3 linked regions of the Homo sapiens genome follow. The protein of the gene in region 3 purifies or fractionates together with the protein of the main gene of each other region. This does not show direct contact. Each region holds a gene or a part of one and is shown on either strand. Other genes may lie near its edges.

Region 1 (7,140 bases), on a different chromosome or scaffold from region 3:
GAGATTCCATCTTAAAAAAAAAAAAATAGATGCTGTGTGGAACCAGTGGATTCAACGCAAGGGCTCTGGGTCCCGCAATCCGGTAGAGTGCACACAACCCAACAGTGAACAGGTTCGTTGCAGGGTAGAGGCCCTGGGCAGTAATCCTGTGCAGTGCACGAATGCAATGTCAGATACTGTGCAGTGGTGCTGCCTTTGCAAACCTAAGCCAGTCCTGAAGCCCAAGAAAGTGGTCCCAAGCTGTACTATAGATATAGACTCCCTGAGTCATGTGCAACGTGGGGCAGTGAGGACACTCAATGCAAAGATGTTGTTCACGTAGGGCTGACAACAAAAACCTGGAAAAGGACGCCAGCCTACAGATACCATGGTGGTAGGAGCGTGAAAGGCCAGGACACCATAGGGGCAGCGTTTCAGCAGCAGTGGTGCAGTGCAAGGGCTGGGCCATGAGGCACATATCCAGTGCAGCAAAGCAGTGCACATGCACAGAAGTGCTATATGGGGCAAAGTGCACTGTTGGTACAATGCAACTGTGGAATGCAGAGGGGCCATGCCCAGAAACTCAGGAAAAGTTCACAGTCCTGATGCAATACTGACGTCCATGCAATAGTGCAGTGCAGTACAGAGATGCTGTGTGATGCCAAGATGCAATGTTGTGGTAGCATGCCATCTGTTGGCACGGTGCAGTGCTGCAATGCGAGGAGCTATGCCCAAACCCCAAAAGAGTCCATGTGCCCAATGCAATGTAGACTGCCTGGTGAGGCAATGGGGTGCAGAATATAAATGCTCTATGACACAAACATGCAATGTGGCCACAGAAAACCATGTGTTGATCTCAGACAGTGGTGCAGTGTGAGCAGCTCCGCCCAGAAACCCAGGAGAATTCACCTTCCCAATGCAACACTGACATCCAGCAGAGTGACACAGTATACAAGAGAGCAGCAAAGACACACACATGGCAGGACCATGGCAGGATCATGGCAGGATGGAGGCACGGTCCAATGGGACAATGCAGAGGCAGAGCATGCAGAAACTCAGGAGAACGCACACCCTCAATGCAATGCAGCAATCCCAGTGAAGTAGAGGGCTGAGACACAGGGCTGTGCAAGGAGGCTGGACCCAGGAATCCCAGACAGTGCACATCCAGAGCAGTCCAGAGCCTGGCACGCTGCAACAGTGTTGCTGGGAGGGTCATGATGCCTCCCTGTGATGCACTGGAGGAGAGGGGAGCTCAGATCCCTGGAAAACTCTCTACCTACAGCTCTGCCCGGCCACGCTGGCTCACCCCACAAGTTGGGGGCCGAAATCTCATCTGGCTTGTCTCCCTCCCTCCAACATCTTCCACCCCAGTGACTCTCCAAGGGCAAAGGCTGAAGCCACTGCCACCCACAGGATAGGCCATCTAGAATCGAGCACATTGTCCAGGTATTATAACTGAGCAGAATCCCAGCATGCTGGCAGGAAAACAATGAATTCAAATTCTGCTGGTAAAGCTCTCAGACAATTAAAGTACAGCCCCTGGCCCCCAGCCCAGGGCAGGACAGAGGAGAGATAGAGAGAAAGACCTATTATTGGATAAGGCCCTGGGACAGGGTGAGCAGGAAGTAGGATGAACAAGAGGTTAGGATGTCAGAGAAGAGCCAGACTCAATCAACCTGGCTAGGCACTCCCCAACCACCACCCCCGTCCCCACCACTATTACTCCCTCCCAGGCCTGGACTTCATCAGAAACCAAGAACAAACTTTTCTGGGCACACAGGATGACCGCACGCATGCAAATACACACATCATAACAGTGATCACTTACACAGTGCTTACTATGTGCAGGACCTGTTCTAACCTACATAATCATAACCATAAAACATATCCTCATGACAAACGCATGCAGTGTGTCCTATTATTATCCCCATTCCACAAATGAGAACTCTAAGGGCCCAGAGAGGTCAGTAACTTACCAAAGTATCACACAGCTAGAAGTGGTGGGCTTAGGATTAGAACCCAGATGGTCTGGGCCCTGAACCCATGCTCTTAACCACCACACGCTAGACAAACACATATTGACAGGCATGCCCAGCCACAAGTCCACATGCACGCTCCTGTAAACACACATACATACACATTCTAAGCAATGTATTTCCCACTCTCAGCTGAGACTCACCTGTCCTATCCACTAGGTTTCTGATAGCTCCCAGTTGTCACCTCTTATCTCCACCTCTTATCTTATCACCCACATCTCCTTGTTCTATCATCCACCTGTCCCCCAACCCTCAGTTGTTCCCCCAATACCGCCTGTCCCTTCACTGTCAGCTGTCCCATCCCCCAGGTATATCTTTCCCACCAGCTATCTTCTATCCGCCAGTGGTCCCCCAGGCCTCAGCTGTCACCCACCACAGTGGACATCTGACAGTGTGCTGCGGTTTTCCGTCTCCTTTTTCCACTAGTCTGGGAGCCCCCGGGGGCTGAGCTGTCACCCCACCCCTAGCTTTAATCTTGCCCTGTCAAATATCCTCAGCATCTCCCCTTCCTAACAGCCCCATCTCAATCTTTCTCCCCAGCTTCTGCCCTCAAACTCCCAAGCCTCAGCGGCCCTCCAAGCCCCCTTTCTCCTTGTCCCTTCTGAGTCATCACAAGGTCTTGTGGTTTGCATCTTGGGAATCTGCCCAAGACCTCCTGCGTCATCTGGAAGCAGCATCTTCTGAGCTGTCCCCCTCAGGGGTCCTCCCACAGTCATTCTGCAGGAAATGGCAGCCCCCAACCCAGAGCCAGAGGAGGAGGCATAGCCAGCCCACCCATGACTGTGCTGCAGAACCCCAGCTCCTGCATTCACCCCTCCAAGCCTTCCCTGTGCACCCAGAGGCATCGAGATGCAGCCACTTAGTGGGCATCTCCCACGTATAGGCCCTGGGGACCACAGATGACAAAGACACAGCTCAGCCCCTGGGGGCTCCCAGCCTAGTGGAAAAAGGAGATGGAAAACCGCAGCACATTGTCAGACGTCCACTATGGGAGAAATTTCACCAACTGCACCGGGAGAGGGCTGGGAAGGCTTCGCTGCATCAGTGACAATGGAGCTGAACTGTGAAGGCTGAACAAGTAGGTAGATCCCCCACCCCCACCACGAGGTGAGAAGTAGGGAGGGGCACAGTGTGTGCAAAGGTAGAGAGGTGTGAACTGGCATGGCAGGCTCCTGGATCAGCAATTTGCCTGGTGATTTGGAGCAGACAGCGGATAGGCAGGAGTGGGATCAGGGAAGAAAGGCATCATGTGAAGCTGCTTCAGAAAGAAAGGGCTGGTCATGCAGGGCCTCATGTGCTATGCTAGGGTTTGGGTTTTGTCCCCTGAGTTCTGGGGAGCCTTCAGCTTGGGACAAAGGAGTGGCAGCATCCTATGTCTGCCTTAGAAGCTTATTCCAGCCACAGGGTGGTGGAAGCATTAGAAACCAAAAGCCTGGGCCGGGCCCGGGGGCTCATGCCTCTAATCCCAGTACTTTGGGAGGCCGAGTCAGGCAGGTCATGAGGTCAGGAGATGGAGACCATCCTGGCTAACACAGTGAAACCCCGTCTTTATTAAAAATACAAAAAATTAGCCGAGCGTGGTGGCACGCGCCTGTAGTCCCAGCTACTTGGGAGGCTGAGGCTGAAGAATTGCTTGAACCCAGGAGGCAGAGGTTGCAGTGAGCCAAGATGGTGCCCCTGCACTCCAGCCTGGGTGACAGAGTGAGACTCCATCTCAAAAAAAAAAAAAGAAACCGAGAGCGTGATGGCAGGCAGAGTAGAGGCCAAGAAGGCTACCAGGCTACTGCAATAGTCCAGGCAAGATCTAATAAGGCTGCAGAGAAGGGGCCTGGATTGAACAAAACCTTTTGTCAAGAGCCACTGAGTCATGGTCCATCCAGACCAATTCCCCTCCCAGAGATGCCCAGGACTCACTGAAGGTGCTGCAGGCCGCCTCATGCCTCTAGACCAGTGCTGTCTGCAGAACTTTCTGAGAGGATGGAAATGTTCTCTGCCTGCATTAACCAGTACAATGAGAGCCACTAGCAACATATGACTCTTGAGGACTTGAAATCTGACTAGTGCAACTGAGGGATTGAATTTTTATTTTAATTAATTTAAATGTAATACCCATACATGACTCAGGAGCCACCGTATTGGAGAATGCAGGTAGAGGACAATTTCCATCACCACAGAAGGTTCTATTAGATAACACAGCTCTAGGCTGACCGTTGAAAAACAGAACTATCGGGGCCCCTTCCAAGGCTTCTGGCTTTGGAGTCTGAAGAGCGATCAGGAGGCAAGTCCCAGGGAAGGGGCTACCAGAGGTTGAGTTGGGTACAGCCACCAGGACATTCCCACCCAACACGTCCACACCCCTTGTGGACACATCCTGGATACATGGACACCACCATAGGTCACAAGGGCACCTCCACATCTAAACATACAAATAGACACATGAGGCCAGGCACAGTGGCTCACACCTGTAATCCCAACACTTTGGGAGGCCGAAGCAGGTGGATCACCTGAGGTCAGGAGTTCAAGACCAGCCTGGCCAACATGGTGAAACCCCATCTCTACTAAAAATACAAAAATTAGCCAGGCATGGTGGCGGGTGCCTGTAATCCCAGCTATTCGGGAGGCTGAGGCAGGAGAATCGCTTGAACCCAGGAGGCAAAGGTTGCAGTGAGCCGAGATCATGCCATTGCACTCCAGCCTGGGTGACAAAGCGAGACTCCATCTGAATAAAAAAGAAGAAAAGGCCGTGCGCTGTGGTTCACGCCTGTAATCTCAGCACTTTGGAAGGCCAAGGCAGGCAGATCACAATGTCAGGAGTTCAAGACCAGCCTGACCAACATGACGAAACCCAGTCTCTACTAAAAATACAAAAATTAGCCAGGCATGGTGGCGTGCGCCTGTAATCCCAGCTACTTAGGAGGCTGAGGCAGGAGAATCACTTGAACCCGGGAGGCGGAGGTTGCAATGAGCCAAGATCACGCCACTGCACTCCAGCCTGGGTGACAGAGTGAGACTCCATCTCAAAAAAAAGAAGAAGAAGAAGAAGAAGAAGAAAAAAAAAAAATAGACACATGGCACCCCACACCCAGACTCACTAACAACTGGATACTTCAATGACTGGGTCCCTGTTGTTTCATACACAGATACCCCCACCCTCAGATACCCGGACACTTGGGGACCCCTACAACCAGACACTCAGGCACCTGGCCAGCCCCATACCTGGACACAACACAGAGACACTCCCCACTTATAAATACCCACTAACCTGAGGACTCCCAGACACATGGATACACCCACCTCCAGCCCCAGGGATGCTGGGATAGCCTCTGTCTGCACACCCTGATCCTCCCACATGCTGGTACTGGGTTGTCCACACCTAGATAGCGAGACACCACCCATCCAAATAGCTCTGCACCCAACTCCAGGAATGTGATACTTGGATAGCCAGACACCCTTAGCACCAGGCTCCCCAGGGGTCAAAGCAGCTGGTTACCTCCCTACTCCAAACTCAGATCCTGCCACACCACACGATAACCAGATGGCTAGACACCCTAACAGGTCACATGTGTCCATGCCCCTAGTTACAATCCCTACACACCCCCCACTCTGACTGCCCAGATGCTAGAGTCACATCTGCACACACCTCAGCCAGCCTCCCCAACCCCATCTGCCAGGGCCACCACGGGATGCAGTTCTCCTCCCTTCCCTCCGGTGCACAAGCGGTGAGAACAGAGGCTGTGACCCCACCCGCCCACCCTAGGATCTAGGACTGAGGACTAAGGGAGGGTCTTCCAGGAAGCTTCCCTCCCTCTCCTAACACAGGGCCCTGCGGGCTCCCTCCCTCCTCCCCAGCCACTCACACAGACCGTTGAGACTCAACGTCTCACCAACTGCCAGGCCCCATCACAAAAGCCTGAGACTGGGGGCTGGAAGGGCCCTGCCAGCTGCTAGGGGTGGGGCCAGAGCCTGGGGGAGGGGCTGGCAGGCAGGAGGCCCGTTCCCTTCAGTCTCTTGCCAGGGACTCAACCTCCCCAACTCAAAGCTCCCAGATGACACTCTCAACATGGCCTTTTCACAACATAACACCATCCCCCACCCTCCAGGAATTTTCCAGATTCCTGGAGGGAAACCTGGTTCTTCAATCTCTACCTTCAGTGGAATCAGTGCACCCCCATCTGGCATCTCCACCTCTGAACCTGGCCCCCTTAAACTTTATTCTTTCAGGCCATATATATTTATTCAGACCCGGTGGGCCAGGCCTTGTACCTGGCACTAAGATTCAGAAGTAAACTAAAAACCCAGTCTCTGTCCTCAGCTCTCAGTCTGGTAAGGGAGACAGCACTAATAAACTGTAATTACAATAATTACAATGCTATGTAAAAATCCAATTGACCCCCACCCCCCGACTTCCTAGGCTAGGACAGGGCATCACCGAGGAAGGCTTCAGGGACTGGATGATGCTTACAGCTGAGAGCCCATCAAGTTGCAGGAGTTCACCAGCAAAAAGCTGGAGTTAGAAAGTTCTGCAGAGAAAGCACGGCTTGCCCAAAGGCCCAGAGAGGAGACAGCAGGCTGTGGGCATTTGGGTCTTTGGTAAGAAGGTCAGGCTGGCCAGATCATAGGATGCAAGGGGCAGTGACACAAAACAAGATGCAGCTGGACAGGCAGGCAGGAGCTAGAGCCAGCAACAGGGCCAAGGGATAAGGACTTCACCCTGAAGGCAATGGGGAGCCTTCAAAGGGTTTTAAACCCTTTGAGTTAAAATGTACTTTACAAAGATCCCTGGCACCATGAGGGAAAGAGGGAAGGAGGAGGCTGGAGTCTTCCTGCAGGTGAAAGATAGCTGAGGACGGACAGAAGGAGACAGATGAAAGAGTCTCTGAGAGGGCAGACAGGACGTTCCAGGATGCAGGAGGGCAACTAGGAAAAGGGGGGAGGGGGAGGAAGGAGGAGCACAAGGTACCCCCTGCAACTCTGGCCAACCCAGTCCTGCATGGAAAGGCCACCCCATATGCCCAGCTGAGCTGATGAAAATCATGGAAGGATGGTGGCCTGTCTCCATCAAGCACGATGCTTGCCCTAGGTTTTTTCTGACACCAGAGCTGGGCAGCAGGCTGTCCAGGAGCTC
Region 2 (7,140 bases), on a different chromosome or scaffold from region 3:
TAGAAAAACCCATGTGAAAGGGATTTTCCCAGTTCAGAGCAACAGAGAAAATGGGTAATAAAAGATAATAGCAGAAGATACAGGCAGTCATGCTAGAATCCATAAAACATACCTACACATTCTTGCTGTAAAATAAATCTCAAAAAGTCCCCCCTCAACAGAATGGAGAATCCAGAAATCAAGCTGCACACCTGCAGCCATTTGATCTTTGACAAAATCAACAAAAATAAGCAATGGAGAAAGGACTCTCTATTCAATAAATGGTGCTGGGAGAGCTGGCTAGCCATATGCAGAAGAATGAAACTGGGCCCAGATCTTTCACCATATACAAAAATTAACTCAAGATGGGTAAAGATTTAAATGACCTTAAACTATAAGAATCCTAGAAGAAAACCTAGAAAACACCATTGTGGGCATCACCCTTGGGAAAGAATTTATGACTATGTCCCCACAAGCAATTGCAACAAAAACAAAAATTGAAAAGTGGGAGCTAATTAAACTAAAGAGCTTCTGCACAGAAAACAAAAACAAAAACTACCAACAGAGTAAACAGACAACCTACAGAATGTGAGAAAATATTCACAAACTATGCATCTGATAAAGGTCTAATATCCAGAATCTATAAGGAATTTAAATAAATTGAACATGTAAAAAACAACCCCATTAAAAAGTCGGCAAAGGACATGAACACACACTTCTCAAAAGATATACAAGTGGTCAACAAACATGAAGAAATGCTCCATATCAGTAATCATAAGAGAAATGCAAATCAAAACCACAATGAGAGGCCATCTCACACCAGTCAGAATGGCTATTACTAAAAAGTCAAAAAGAAAAAAAAAAAAAAGATGTTGGAGAGGCTGTGGAGAAAAGGGAACACTTATATGCTGCTGGTAAAAATGGAAATTAGTTCAGCCACTGTGGAAAGCAATTTGGAGAGTTCTCAAAGAACGTAGAGTATTATTTAACCCAGCAATCCCATTACTGGGTATATACTCAAAGGAAAATAAATCATTGTATGCAAAAGACACATGCACTCTGATCTTTATTGCAGCACCATTCACAATAGCGAATACATGGAATCAACCTAGGTACTCATCAGTGGTACATGGGATAAACAAAATGTGGTATACATGCACCAGGGAATACTATGCAGCCATAAAAAAGAAGAAACTTTTATCCTTTGCAGCAACATGAATGCAGCTGGAGGCAATAATCCTAAGCAAATAAATGGCAGGACAGAAAACCATACACCATATGTTCTCATTTATAAGTGGGAGCTAAACGCTGGGTACTCATAGACATAAAAATGGCAACAACAGAAAGTGGGGACTATTAGAGAGGGGAGGGAGGGAGAAGGAAAAGGATTGAAAAACTACTAGTTATTATGCCCAGTACCTGGGTGATGGGATCAATCATAACCTGAAAACCTCAGCATTACACAATATACTCAGGTAACAAACCTTCACATGTACTCCATGAATCTAAACTAAAAGTTGAAAAAACAGTCCCTCTTCAAAATGATAAACAAAAATAAGGTAAGAATGGCAGAAAATTAAAAAAAAAAAAACAAAGTTAAAGTTAAATAAGTATTCTTAAGATAGTATAAAATGTAATACAAATATTAAAATATCTAATAATAATCACTTAGATCAAAATGAGCAGATAATAGTGTAATATGCTGTCATATATGAATCTGTAAGGTAACTAAGCTCATAAAAAATTACTTCAAAATCGATTTTTTGAGTGGGAAAACGAGTCAGAAAGTAGAGTCAGAGTGGCAATAACAAAAGTTACTGTTTCTGTAGAAATTTCTATTTAAAATGTATATGTCAAAAGGCACATATCAAGTTTGTAGCTGTAAACTAAAATTAATTCAATAATCAAAACTGGCCAAGGACTTCATTTTCTTTCCTTTAACCCCATACATTCAGTCACTTCTACTCCCCCTCCTTCACCTTCACTCTTCACTTTGCAAATTTGCTAAAAGAAAGGTTCACAATTGTCAATGATTAAGAAAAGGAACTCAAGAACGCATGCGTAAATTTAAGTACCACCATGCCAACAGAGCAACTTTTAGCTGCTGAGGGCCTCATGCTTATTCTCGAAAGCTTATTTAGGGCTAGTTCTGATCATGACTCGTTATCACTGTATCTGCCACTGAAATGTGACAATATTTTCTGATAAATCTACGATGTTATATTCAACTTGTGCTCTGAAGATAATAAGAAAATGTCAGCATTTCACACGCTGAGGGAAATAGAGGCGTAAAGGAGGAAGGAAGTAGTAATGCCCATGACATTTCTCCTCTTAGAAAGATACTACTTTATTCTTGATTGTAAGAGAAATACAGTTCAAATATTTTAAATACTTAAATTTGGTCATAGTAGAATACAAACAGGACATAAAAGTTTCCAAATTACTAGAGAAAAAGAAAAAAACTCATCACTATAACTAGAAGAAAAGTGAAAAGGAAACTACTGGAAAGTAATAACAAAAATATTAAAAAAGGTTATAAAACAGACTTTAGACACATCCAAAATACATCCAAAATGTTAATAATGGTCACCTCAAGATTTTGGTATATAATATAACTTTTCTGTTTTTCCCCCTAAATTTATTACAAAGAATATGGATTACTTTTGAAATAAAAGAATTATACTAAAAACTATTTCAGACAAAACTAAAAGCAACTATCTGTCTTCAAGCGTACGATTCCTCAACCCGTGTATTTCAAAAAACCATGTGAATCAAACTTACTGGTTCATAAACTAAACCATCTGCAGATGCAACCATTGTTTCTGCTAAATCCAATACATCCGCTCCAACATCTGCATAGAAAAAAGAATTAGAAGTTTTACATTCTATGCTTGGAGGCAAACCATCCCCAATATAAACAAATTAAGCCAACTAACAGAAAACTCACCAAGCAAAAAAAAAAAAAAAACCTCACCAACTATGTAGAATAATTTCCGATATATTTGTCCAAAAGCTAAAACAGTAGCCTTATATAGCTTAGGTGGAGATTATTCCAAAATGTAATAATGTTTTTTCTTACCCAGTAAAAAACTTCTTACCCAATAAAAAAAAAAAGATAATTCAAGATCTCATTTAAAAAGGATAAGCGTCACTGAATTGAAGAGCTTTGCAAATATCGGCAAGAACCTAATCACAAGTACTAAGTGGCTGCTGAACAAAATATTAATTCCAAGAAATATTTTTAGAGATTAAAAGAAATCGTAAAGCTATGCTACAAATCAACAAATAGGAAATTTTATTCGGAAAAGGCTAAAATTTAACAGTATTTAAACATCCAAAATAAGGCAGAATATCATATATTCAGAATTACCACTAACTACAAGTTTAAAAATAAAGTATTTTTTTATCTCTTAAAACCACCAACATAAGGAAAAACATATTGAAAAGAAAGAGATTCAAGGTCGTTCTGAGATAGAATCTCACAGAAAATAACCTCTAATTAATTGGGTAAAATTATTTCATACTTTTAAAAATGTAAAAATTTTCTCTGAGTTCTTGGTCTGTAATTTTTAAGCAGTAACTCATAAAATATTTTTCATGCAAAAGCATTCTTATTTTTGAAAACAGTATTGATTCAAACATTCACTATCTGGCATATTAGCATTTTTCCACTTCTATTAGTATAACCAAGTGAGTCCAGTGACGAAAAAAGAAAAGGGTAACCTATCACCATTAACTTAAAATAACTGGATCTGTATTTTTAAACGCAAGAGTAAACATAAAAGGTGGTAAACTGAAACAGTGACACAAGGATATGCTTGTGAAACATGGGTATAAAAGCTAGTACTCCAAACAAAAAAAGACAGAAAGGATGTACATAAACTAGAATGCTGATTCACAAACATTTCCTCCAACTTTCTTTTAATTATACTAATGTGAAAGTTTTATCTCTTCTCTTTATGGAAAAGAAACTTGAAGAATATAAGCTGAGGAGTAAAACAATTTGTATTATTAAATAATACCACAGTAAAACTTTAAAATATTATAAAGGAAAAATAAAGTACAACCAGTGATTTTTATTTTTGCTTGGCAATTGTTTGAACCATAACCTACATGTGGATTCAGCAAGTTGAAGGTGTACTTACATTGACACTTCATGGCAACAGTAATATCTATATTAATTCTTAATTTGCTGAAAGACAAAATATTAAACATTAGTACCTACCAATTAATTAGCAAAACATGAGAAATATAAATCAACTGACCTATTAAAAACTTGGATTTCAAGCAGAATAAATTATGTCGATTAGAACTTGAATTGCATTTCTCATGGCCAAAACAAAGGCTCTTTAAATTACAAGTTCTATTTTGCCCTTATTCCAAAAGCCTTTCTGACTTCACAGGTTTTTGAACACAGTATCCTTTAATAATGGCAACTCTATAATCAATAACTCTAAGCAACTCAGAAAAAGTCTTAACCTCTTAATCTCTATTTACATAAACTTTTGATAGAATGTTCTTTTAAGAATGTAAAACTCTCAAAATCAAGAATTAGGAATTGTCTTTCTTCTCTGTTTATCAAACACCATATATTAAGCATGATGCTAGATGTTCTACAAATATTATCTCCTTTATTCTATATCATGGAGCTATAAATGGATGGCTTCACAGATTTTCAAGTAAACCACTGGTGTTCACGGTAGTGTAAATACCTGGCTTAAGATCACATCACCATTAAAGTGGCATACTGGAAACTAGGTCTATGTAACTCAGGATAAATGCAACCAAACTACCAAAAGTAAATCACCTGATGCTTAAAATTTTTCATGGCCTTTCATTTTCAAATGATTAGATCAAAGCAATTTTCGAATACCAGAATGAAGCATTGCGAATAATAGACTGGCTATGATCAAATTCAGTCCTGTGCTTTCTATGATAACTTTTTTCTGTGTAATAATTTTCATCTGATTTAAAATAGGAATTACAGATTTTTAGACCTTCATGAAGTCTTAAAGTCATCTAGAGTTCAAACTGTGTTCCAAATAACCCAGGAGTTTAGGCTCAGGAGATAGGAACCAGGAGTAGGCCAAGTAGACAAACTTCTGCATATCCTCACCATGCTTATGTGGCGAACTATGTAATACATAAGACTTCATTTGGAAAAAAATGAAGTATTGCATTGGTGCTGAAAACAACAACAAATTCTTTGAAAACCAATACTATCCTGAATAGTACATTAGAGATGAAGAAACTGAAGTCCAAAAGAAGTCAGTGGTGTGACCTGCCCAAGGTTACACAGCAATTTACAAATGTTGACTAATTTAATTCTCATAAACCTCTTGAGGAAGATACTATAATTGCTGTCTGTACTTTACAAAAAAGGAAACTGAAGCATATACAGGTGCAGATTTAGTAAATTCCCTAAAATTATGTAAATGGCAAACCTGGATTGTAATTGAAAACTAAATGTGTCTTCCTATTTGGTGCAATCTTAATATTATAAACCTATTATCTTCATTCCATTGAAGAAATCCAAATAATACAAACGAATAGATGTAAAGTGTATAATTAAGGTACTATATTTTCAAAAGTTTAAAAGTAATCTTATTTACATAAAGATTTAGCTTAGGTATAATTTATAGACATCAAGTCATAAGGGTATACAATGTATCCTTAGACAACTTATTTTCCAGCTCACACAGATCAGTGAGGTATTTCAACCAGTTTCAAATATTAAACAATTTCCACAATATACATATCTAAGGAAAAATATTCCCCTAACTTTTTGAAACAAAGCATGCTAAATCAAAGAACCTCAGTTTTAGAATTCAACCACTATTTAAATGATTCTAAAAGGTTTCACTTAATGCATGCAATTAATGAGAATTTTTCAGGACTATTTCTTCAGAACTAAAACAAACCAAATCTAGAAGGTTAGACTTTTTCTTTTTTAAAAGGTATGCTCTTTTTAAAACAATTTGAATCTAAAGGTATTCCAAGAAGAAAAAAAATGATTACCTAGAAAAATCCTTGTCTACTTCGTATTCATACTTCATCCATGTATCTTGATATACTGAGAATTCCATTATGGTTAATAAAGCCATAGTTGTAAATGCTATTAGAGAAACTGGGAAATCCAACAACAAAAGAAAAACAGAATTAAAACAATAAAAAAAGCAAAGAATAGGAAACTAATTTAAGTGAGATTAAATTTTCAAAAGAAAAAGCCTAATAATGTAACTTCCATTTGAATGCATACTATAGAAGGTTTTTATTCAAAATGTTTATTATGCATTTTTTCTAATACAGCTCAAAAGTTAAGGTTTAATATATACAAATATGAACATAAACACTTGCATTACTAAGAAAGCATTTTATTTCTCCAATTTTAAGGGCATCTCTCACTAAGTAGAGTTGACAAAATTTGTATTTCTTATATAAAACAGTGTCACAGATAGGATAAATGATGAAAGTAAGCATGCCTTATAGCACAAATTTGAAAACAGTTGCTTCATTATTAAAAATGCATCCATGTCTATAAATATAATTTGTATATAAATGTATATAAATTGGGCTATAAGCCCAATTTAAAACAAACAAAAAGGTAGCCTAATTTCTTAGATCCTGAGAAACCACAATAATCTGTGTGCCAGAAACTCAAATAACATCTCTAAATAGCTAACAAAACTCTCCTCTACTTGGCAATCTCCTAAATATATCACCTCATTCACAGAACTGAGTAAAAGATCTGACAAAAAGAAAATCTATTATATACTAAAGCAAAATACTTAAAATAGATTTTGCAAGAACTTGCACTATTTTCATTAACAAAACTTAATCACAAGTGGATCAGAAATAGTAAGCAACTTATTACCCATTTTACCAAATAAAATGTCAACCTTAAGTGAAATACATTATTTTACTACCTTTTCATAGGGAAAGAAATTATACTGAATATTGTTATAGTCACACATTTTTCTTATATATTTCATTATTTATTTTACTTAACTGATACTTTTATCTGTACCAGGCACTGGGTCTAAGCATTTTATGAAAATATTAATAGTATAGTAACCCCTAGGAGGTAAATACTAGTATGATCCCTATTTCATGGAAGAAACTAAGACAGATAGATTTGAATAACTTCCTCAAGGTCACATA
Region 3 (7,824 bases):
CCCCAGTTGGACTAAAATTTTTTGTTTGTTTGTTTGTGTTTGTTTGTTTTTTTAAGATGGAGTCTAGCTCTGTCACCCAGGCTGGAGTGCAATGGCACGATCTCAGCTCACTGCAACCTCTGCCTCCTGGGTTCAAGCGATTCTCCTGCCTCAGCCTCCCAAGTAGCTAGGATTACAGGTGCCTGACACCACACCCGGCTAATTTTTTGTATTTTTAGTAGAGACGGGGTTTCACCATGTTGGCCAGGCTGGTCTTGAACTCCTGACCTCAAGTAATGCACCCACCTCGGGCCTCCCAAAGTGCTGGGATTACACGCGTGAGACACCGAGCCCGGCCTTAAAATAGCTTTTTAAACCCTAGACAAAAGGAAACATTTTAACTAGCAGTTGTTTTCGCAGCCATAAAAACATGCACAAAAGAACACCCATTAAAGAGAGGAAAGATGAAACTGTATTTACTGAGGATCTACTCTGCACCAGGTTCTTTGTTAACTTTTCCAACAACAATCTTATGAAGTGGACATATTAGTAATCCCATTTTACAGTTGAGGAAACTGAGGTTCAGGGAGGTTACAGAATTTTTCCAATATGCAGTCAGGAGATGGAAAGCCATCCACTTACACTGAGATGGACATTCACTCTACTTTTCCTTTCTAAGGAAGAAAGAAGACTGTAAAGGTTCTGGAAAGAGTTCTAATTGCCAGTTTCAGTGTTGGAAACTTAGAACTGGCATTAAAGTGTCCATTGCCTCTTGCCAGTTTTCACTCAGGAGACTGTTTCACATCTATTTCTTTTTCTCATAGAATTCTTTTATTTGTGTACAAAAGAAGAATGAAAGAAGTCCGTGCATTTGTATATACTAGTGCACAGAATTTTTTTAGTATGAACACATCGATAGGCACAAACACACATAAAATGTAACTTGATAACAGTAGCTGCCTCTGGAGAGAGGAACTGAAGAACGGGGTCTTTCACACCTATTTTAAACTCATAAGCCAGAAGAACAAGGGCATCTCACAGAAGTACATATTCACTGTTATTTCATTGTAGGCCTCCTGCTTGTCTCTCTTTGTGCAAGCATTCTCCCCTCTCTGGGCTTTAATTTCCCCACGTGAAAAAAAGACACTCTGACTTAGGAGTCCTTAGAATACCAGGAGGGTGCTTTTCCTCTATTTGCACTTAATTCTATCCTCCATGTCTCGGAGGGTCCAAACGCTCTCGGTCACCATTCACTAAGTATTTATTGATCATCTACTATGCATCATGCACTGGAGATTGGAGATAGATAGGACAGAGACCCTGATCTTAAGGAGTTGGTGGGAGAGGCAGACAGGTGACAAACCACTTCAACTCCATGTGCCTGTGCTTCCTGCAGAAGAACACAGAAAAGAGAGTAACTGTGCTTGCATGACACTTTCTGGGAACTGACACTTTCACAGGAGTGGTGAGGCTAGAGCTGGGTTTTGAAGGATGAGCAGGAGTTTGCCAGGTAGACAAGGTTGGGACATGCCTGGCTTAAAGTGCCAAGGAAGCCTTTCTCAAAGGGCTCACAGAGCTGCTCTCCCATCTCGAGCTCACTGGACCACAAGAAGGAGAAGGCTGGCATCTGCCTCTTCTGTGTGTGTCGCTGATTTTGTGAGAGGTAGGTGGGGGAGGGGGGTAATTCTCAGGGTCCGCCTCTGTTTCTCTACGTGTGTGTTTCTCTTTACTGTCCTTTTAACCACCTCCTTTTGGCCTTTGTGTTTTCTGCCTCCTCTTATGTCTGCCTTTATCTCTGTTTCTCTTTCCAGGCATCTTTCCCTCTGCTGCTCCCGTCTCCCGCTTCTCAGTGTCTCTCCTTCCCCTCCCCCGGTCCCCAGGCCTCCAAGACCACCCACTTGGTTTCCTCTCTCTTCCTGTGCGTTCTGAGTGTTTCTCTGATCGTGTTTCTCTGGGTGTGTGTGAGCTGAGTGTGCTTCTAAGTGTGTTTCTCCGTGTGTGTTTGTGTTAGTGTGCGTGAGCTGTTTTTCTGTTTCTGTGTGTGTGAGCTGTTTCTCAGAGTGTGCTTCTGAGTGTGTGAGCTGTGTTTCTCAGAGTGTGTTTCTGAGTGTTAGCTATGTTTCTGAGTGTTTTCTGAATGTGCTTGTGTGAGCTGTTTATCTTGAGTGTGCTTGAGTGGGTGTGAGCTGATTGTGTTTCTCAGAGTATGTTTCTGAGTGTGTGTGAGCTGAATGTTTCTCCGAGTGTGCTTGTGTGTGTGAGCTGAGTGTGCTTCTGAGCGAGTGTGAACTGTTTCTCGGAGTGTGTTTCTGAGTGTGTGTGAACTGAATGTTTGAGTGTGCTTCTGTGTGTGAGCTGAGTGTTTATCTTGTGTGCCTCTGAGTGCGTGTGTTTCTGAGTGTGTGTGAACTGAATGTTTCTGAGTGTGCTTCTGTGTGTGAGCTGAGTGTTTATCTTGTGTGCTTCTGAGTGCGTGTGTTTCTGAGTGTGTGTGAACTGAATGTTTCTTAGTGTGCTTGTGTGTGTGACCTGAGTGTTTATCTTAAGTGTGCTTCTCAGTGCGTGTGAGCTGAGTGTGTTTCTCGGAGCGTGTGTTCGTGGTCCTTCTCTGCAGTCTGCGTGGCGTTTCTTTGTGTTTTTCTTTCTCTATTCTTCCCTGCGTACTGAAGAGTAAGTTTTCCTGTTTTTCTCCGTCTCTTTCTCTCTCCCTTACTTTCCCCCTTCCCCTCCGGTTCCAGAACCACAAGGACAGAACAGACCCAAGACCCTACCCGCTTCCCCGTGCTCGTCCACCCAGGACGCCCACTCTGTCCCCGGGAGGGAGGGACCCCCAGCCCGCCCGGGACGCGCCGCACGGGCCCCGGAGCGCTCCGGGGCGCGGCTCCTACTCCTTTCCCCAACTTCGGGCGCGCGGCCCCGCGGCAAGAACAAAGCTGCGGCACCCGCCTCCCCTCTCCCCGGCAGCCGGGCCAGGCCCCGCGCCCCCGCGTCCCCTTCCCCGACTCGCCGCGGCCCGCCCGGCCCGGCGGGGCTCACCCACCTCAGGCTGTGGCTCCCGGGCGCATCCCGCGACTGCCCCGCCGATGGCAAAGTCCGGGCGCGGGCGCGGGCCTGCAGCGGAGCATGCCGGGAAGCGCCGCGGCCCTAGGAATCCAGCCTCGCGCCCCCGCGCCCCGGCCCCCGGCCCCCGGCCCGCGCCAAATCCCCGCCGCCAGGCGCCGCCGTCACCGCCAGGCCCCCCGGCGGCCGGGGCAGCTGGGAGGCGGGCCCTGGCGACCCAACACCCCTTCCTCGCGCCCCCGCGGTGGCCCGTCCGGGCGGCAGACGGAGAGGGGAGCGGAGGGTCCCTGCCTGCGCCCCGCCCCGGGCTGGCGGTCCCAGGCGGCGAGCGCGGATGGGTACCGCAGGGGGGCTGGCGGCGGAGCCAGTGTGCTCCGCCACGGACTGTCCCATTGAAACCCTGCCTCTGCCACTCACTAGCTATGGACAACTTAGTTCAGCCTTTGTGCCTCGGTCTGTAAAACGGGGCTGCTGCTTGTCAGCATCCTCAGAGTTGGTATTAGGAATGATGGGATGCAGGATGCATCGGACTGCCTGGCCCAGGGTAAAGAGTGAATCGAGGGTCGCTCTTATTTACAGCCTGACCCACGGGTCAGTGAGAAGCAGGCCCACCCCTGGCGACTGCCTAGCCAGGGGCAAGAGTACAAATGCAGAGCCCTTGCTAGTAGTCTTGCTGCTTCTATTCCCACACGACTCCATCCCATACATACTGAAGGGGGTCTACTGGTTCAGGCAAACACACACCCCCTACCCTGCCATCCTTCATTCTAACGATACTCAGGCCAGGCAGGGCAGGCTGCCCTGGGTGGATGGAAGTCAGACCTTGGAAGCAGGCTCAGGGCTGTTTACACAGGGATTTCCGGAGTCCAGGGTACCAGGAGCATGATCTAGAAGGGAACATACGCTCCAGCTGGAGTGGGCCAACTAAAGCACGGGGTTCAGGGCAGGATCCCAGTGGTCCAGGTCTGAGGTCAGTATCGGTGACAGTTAACAAAGGATACAGATTGGGTCCTAGGCCGCTTGACACAGGGTCTGCAAACTGGTACCCCCAAGGCCACATCCAGCCCACAGAGGTGGTTTTTTTGGTTCATACTTTTGTTGTTTTATTTTAATTTTTTTGAGACAGAGTCTCAGTCAGTCGCCCAGGCTGGAGTGCTGTGGCACAGTCTTGGCTGTTTACGGGTGGAGGGTGTCCAGGTTCTTGCCTTTATTTATTTATTTATTTATTTATTTATTTATTTTTTGAAACAGAGTCTGGCTCTGTTGCCCAGGCTGGAGTGCAATGGCACGATCTCAGCTCACTGCAACCTCTGCCTCCTGGGTTCAAGCGATTCTCCTGCCTCAGCCCCCCAAGTAGCTGGGATTACAGGTGTGCGCCACCACGTCCCACTAATTTTTTTTGTTATTTTTAGTAGAGACGGGGTTTCGCCACGTTGGCCGGGCTGGTCTGGAACTCCTGACCTCAGGTGATCCACCCACCTCAGCTTCCCAAAGTGCTGGGATTATAGGCATGAGCCACCGCACCCGGCCTGTTCTTGTCATTTTGAACAAAGAATTAGACAAAAGGCACAAGCAAAGCAAGTAAAGAAAGAATGAAGCAACAAAAGCAGAGATTTATTGAAAACAAAAGTGCATTCCACAAGGTGGGAGCAGGCCCCTGCATATGGGCTCAAGAGCCCCTGCTGTAGAATCTTCTGGGGTCCAAATACCTCCTAGAGGTTTCCCATTGGCCACTTGGCGTTCACCCCATGTAAATGAAGTGGTGCCACAATTAGTCTGATTGGTTGTGGAAAGCAACCAATCAGAGGCTGAAGTGAAGTTACAAAGGTTGCACTCCTATGCAAAAGAAGATTTGGCCCGCAATCAGTCTGATCGGTTACTTTCCACAACCAATCAGAGGCTAAAGTGAAGTTACAAAGTTACACTCCTATGCAAAAGAATATTTGGCCGCAATCAGTCTGACTGGTTGCTTTCCACAACCAATCAGAGGCTGAAGTGAAGTTACAAAGTTACACTTCTATGCAAACGCAGGATTGGTTGCGGAAAGGCAATCAGAGGTACTTTCAAAAGATTTTCCATCTGCCAAGCAGAAAGTGGGGAGTGGGGGTTGCAAAGGGAGTAGTCTCTGGTCCGTTTGTTACTTAGGTGCGGAAAGTTGGGGTTTTCCTTTTGATTTAGTTCTAGGAAGTCAGGTGAACCCTTAGGTTTCCTGCCTCCAGACCCTATTCTCCTGCCTCATCTCTCTCCTGAGAGACATGACCCCCATAAATCTTTATGGGATGCAGAGGAACTGTAACTGCTTTATGCCAACTTGGGGCGTAGTTCCTACCTACTGGAGATCATGGAACTCTTGCCCTACTCTGTCTAGTGGAGACAGTGTGGCATCCTGATGGCCAGGGGTGGTGTCTTCACTTGGAACTGACTGGAAACTTTGTCACATGATCATCTGAAGCTTGATGGTCTCTATGTGAAAGGAAATGAATATGGTTAAAAGATTTAACAGGAACTTCAGGGGGTGGATACTTATGCTGTCAGGAATGTTCATTATGGAGATGAATTGAAACATTCTGCTAATTACTACAAAGGAAGTGATTCCATAAGTTTGGAAGAAGGCAATAAAAAAATGGCCACTATTATCCAGAGCACTTCCACGTTTTATTAAGTACCTTATCTCCTGGCCTGATTTGGGGTTGCTGGGATTGGCCAAGACTCAGCTATTTTTACAGGCACATATTCCTAAGTTAGGTTACCGTTCATCCACAGAGACTCCAATATAGAAATACGGAGTCCTTCTCAGGCTATATTTAATTTGCTTTAACAATTTCCCCCTTTTGGTCATTTTCTCAATTTTGAGAGATTGACCAAACCTTTAGTCATTCATGTCACTACCACCATCATAAATGAACTTATTTGGTCTTGAAACCCACTGGGAAACAGTAAAACAACAGTGAGTTTTGTACAGTGGGAACAAGGACTGAGTAGAGGGTACCTCCTTATGGTGGAACATCCTGTTTGCAGGAGAAAAACAAAACCTGGTCTGTTTTAGGATCTATGTGTTTTGGTTTGTTTGGTTTGCTGGGGCCTAGCACATGATGTCAGTCCAAAACACTGGCCTCTCATAATTTTGTTAAAAAAATTCTCCCTTTTTGGTCAGGTTCTCACTTGGGTGAGAGTGTGACCAAAATTTAAGGCCTTAGCACCACACTCACTTGCCATCATTTTGGGTTTCCAGTCTCACCACATCATTCATAGGTTATGGTATCCTCCTGGTCATGCACTTCTTTCAGCTCTTGTCATTCCACTTGAAAAGAGACCATTTGACATTCTAGAGATGGCTGAATGCAAGCATTTAAAGCCTTTGAGATAATACAGCGCACCAGGGAGACTATTATTATGACTACTGGGAGGATAATACTAAGAGTTTGGAGCATACTTCATACCAAGGATCCCCATAAACCAAACCACCTAAAATTAAATCAAAGAATGTGCTAAAGAATCTACTCACTTAACTAAGAAATCTCTTCGTTAATCCCCTACAACTAAATCTCTATAATCTTCATTTGATGTATTTCTCCATAAGCCACAAGTGCCAGCAGCTGCACAGATACTTCTCTGTTCAGCCGATTCTATCGTAACCTTCACAAAAGAATTTAAAATCTGTTGTGTAACTATAGCCTTTACAGTAGATATTCTCAGAAGACCCAATCTTTGGGTTCTAGATTGTGAAGGGGTTGATTGTCCTCAGTGACCCATAAAAAGCTTTCTTTACCTGGTGAAAATACACTGTAGCATAATAATCTACTGTTATAACATCAGCCCTCTTGCATAGGAAAGCTTTTTTACAACCAGAAACATGCATTGAAAATGGCAATTGAAATGTTTAAATGGCCCATGAGGTAGCCAAATGTACTTGAAGATTTGATTGTCTTCCCAGGAATATGGATTTGACAAACCAAACATTGGTTATAAACTACTTTAGCAATGTATAAGTCAGCACACCAATATATATTTAATTTGGATTATTTTATCTTTTCCATGATGAGTCATGGAGTGCATAACCTTGAATAACAAAAGCTTTAAGGACTCAGGAAGGGCAAGGCTGCTGTCCTGGTTCTCCATGAGTCCATGCTTAACATCGGACTTACGTCATCTTGAATACCAGTTGTTTCTCCAGTTTAGCTGTATAGCACTGACAACTGATGGGTTATCATAGGTAATTTGACTTAGACCATGGAGTTCATTCAAATTGTATATCTAAACAATTTTAGTATCCGCTGATTTAGCATGCAAATCTGGCAAAGTATTTTCTTGGTACTCAACTAATTTTTGTTCCACTTGGGTTAACACTTTTATACAAAGAAATTTGGTCTCTCCCCCTCCCCCTCCCCCTCCCCCTCCCTCTCCCTCCACGGTCTCCCTCTGATGCCGAGCCAAAGCTGGACGGTACTGCTGCCATCTCGGCTCACTGCAACCTCCCTGCCTGATTCTCCTGCCTCAGCCTGCCGAGTGCCTGCGATTGCAGGCGCGCGCCGCCACGCCTGACTGGTTTTCGTTTTTTTTTGGTGGAGACGGGGTTTCGCTCTGTTGGCCGGGCTGGTCTCCAGCTCCTAACCGCGAGTGATCCGCCAGCCTCGGCCTCCCGAGGTGCCGGGATTGCAGATGGAGTCTCGTTCACTCAGTGCTCAATGGTGCCCAGGCTGGAGTGCAGCGGCGTGATCTCGGCTCGCTACAACCACCTCCCAGCCGCCTGCCTTGGCCTCCCAAAGAGCCGAGATTGCAGCCTCT

What was found.
Region 1: the proteins of TMEM98 (region 3) and PTPRU purify together in Homo sapiens (co-immunoprecipitation; 2 studies listed by BioGRID and IntAct, with this or other methods). This does not show direct contact.
Region 2: the proteins of TMEM98 (region 3) and ERGIC2 purify together in Homo sapiens (co-immunoprecipitation; 2 studies listed by BioGRID and IntAct, with this or other methods). This does not show direct contact.

Annotation. Positions count from the first base shown.
Region 1 is NC_000001.11:29,239,507-29,246,646, reverse strand, and holds part of PTPRU (receptor-type tyrosine-protein phosphatase U isoform 1 precursor), read right to left. Parts: intron 1-7,140.
Region 2 is NC_000012.12:29,364,117-29,371,256, forward strand, and holds part of ERGIC2 (endoplasmic reticulum-Golgi intermediate compartment protein 2), read right to left. Parts: intron 6,107-7,140; coding exon 5,998-6,106; intron 4,172-5,997; coding exon 4,125-4,171; intron 2,832-4,124; coding exon 2,761-2,831; intron 1-2,760. UniProt on the Homo sapiens protein: Possible role in transport between endoplasmic reticulum and Golgi.
Region 3 is NC_000017.11:32,923,433-32,931,256, reverse strand, and holds the start of TMEM98 (transmembrane protein 98), read right to left. Parts: upstream 3,105-7,824; 5' UTR 3,020-3,104; intron 358-3,019; exon of another isoform or gene 286-357; intron 1-285. UniProt on the Homo sapiens protein: Functions as a negative regulator of MYRF in oligodendrocyte differentiation and myelination. Interacts with the C-terminal of MYRF inhibiting MYRF self-cleavage and N-fragment nuclear translocation.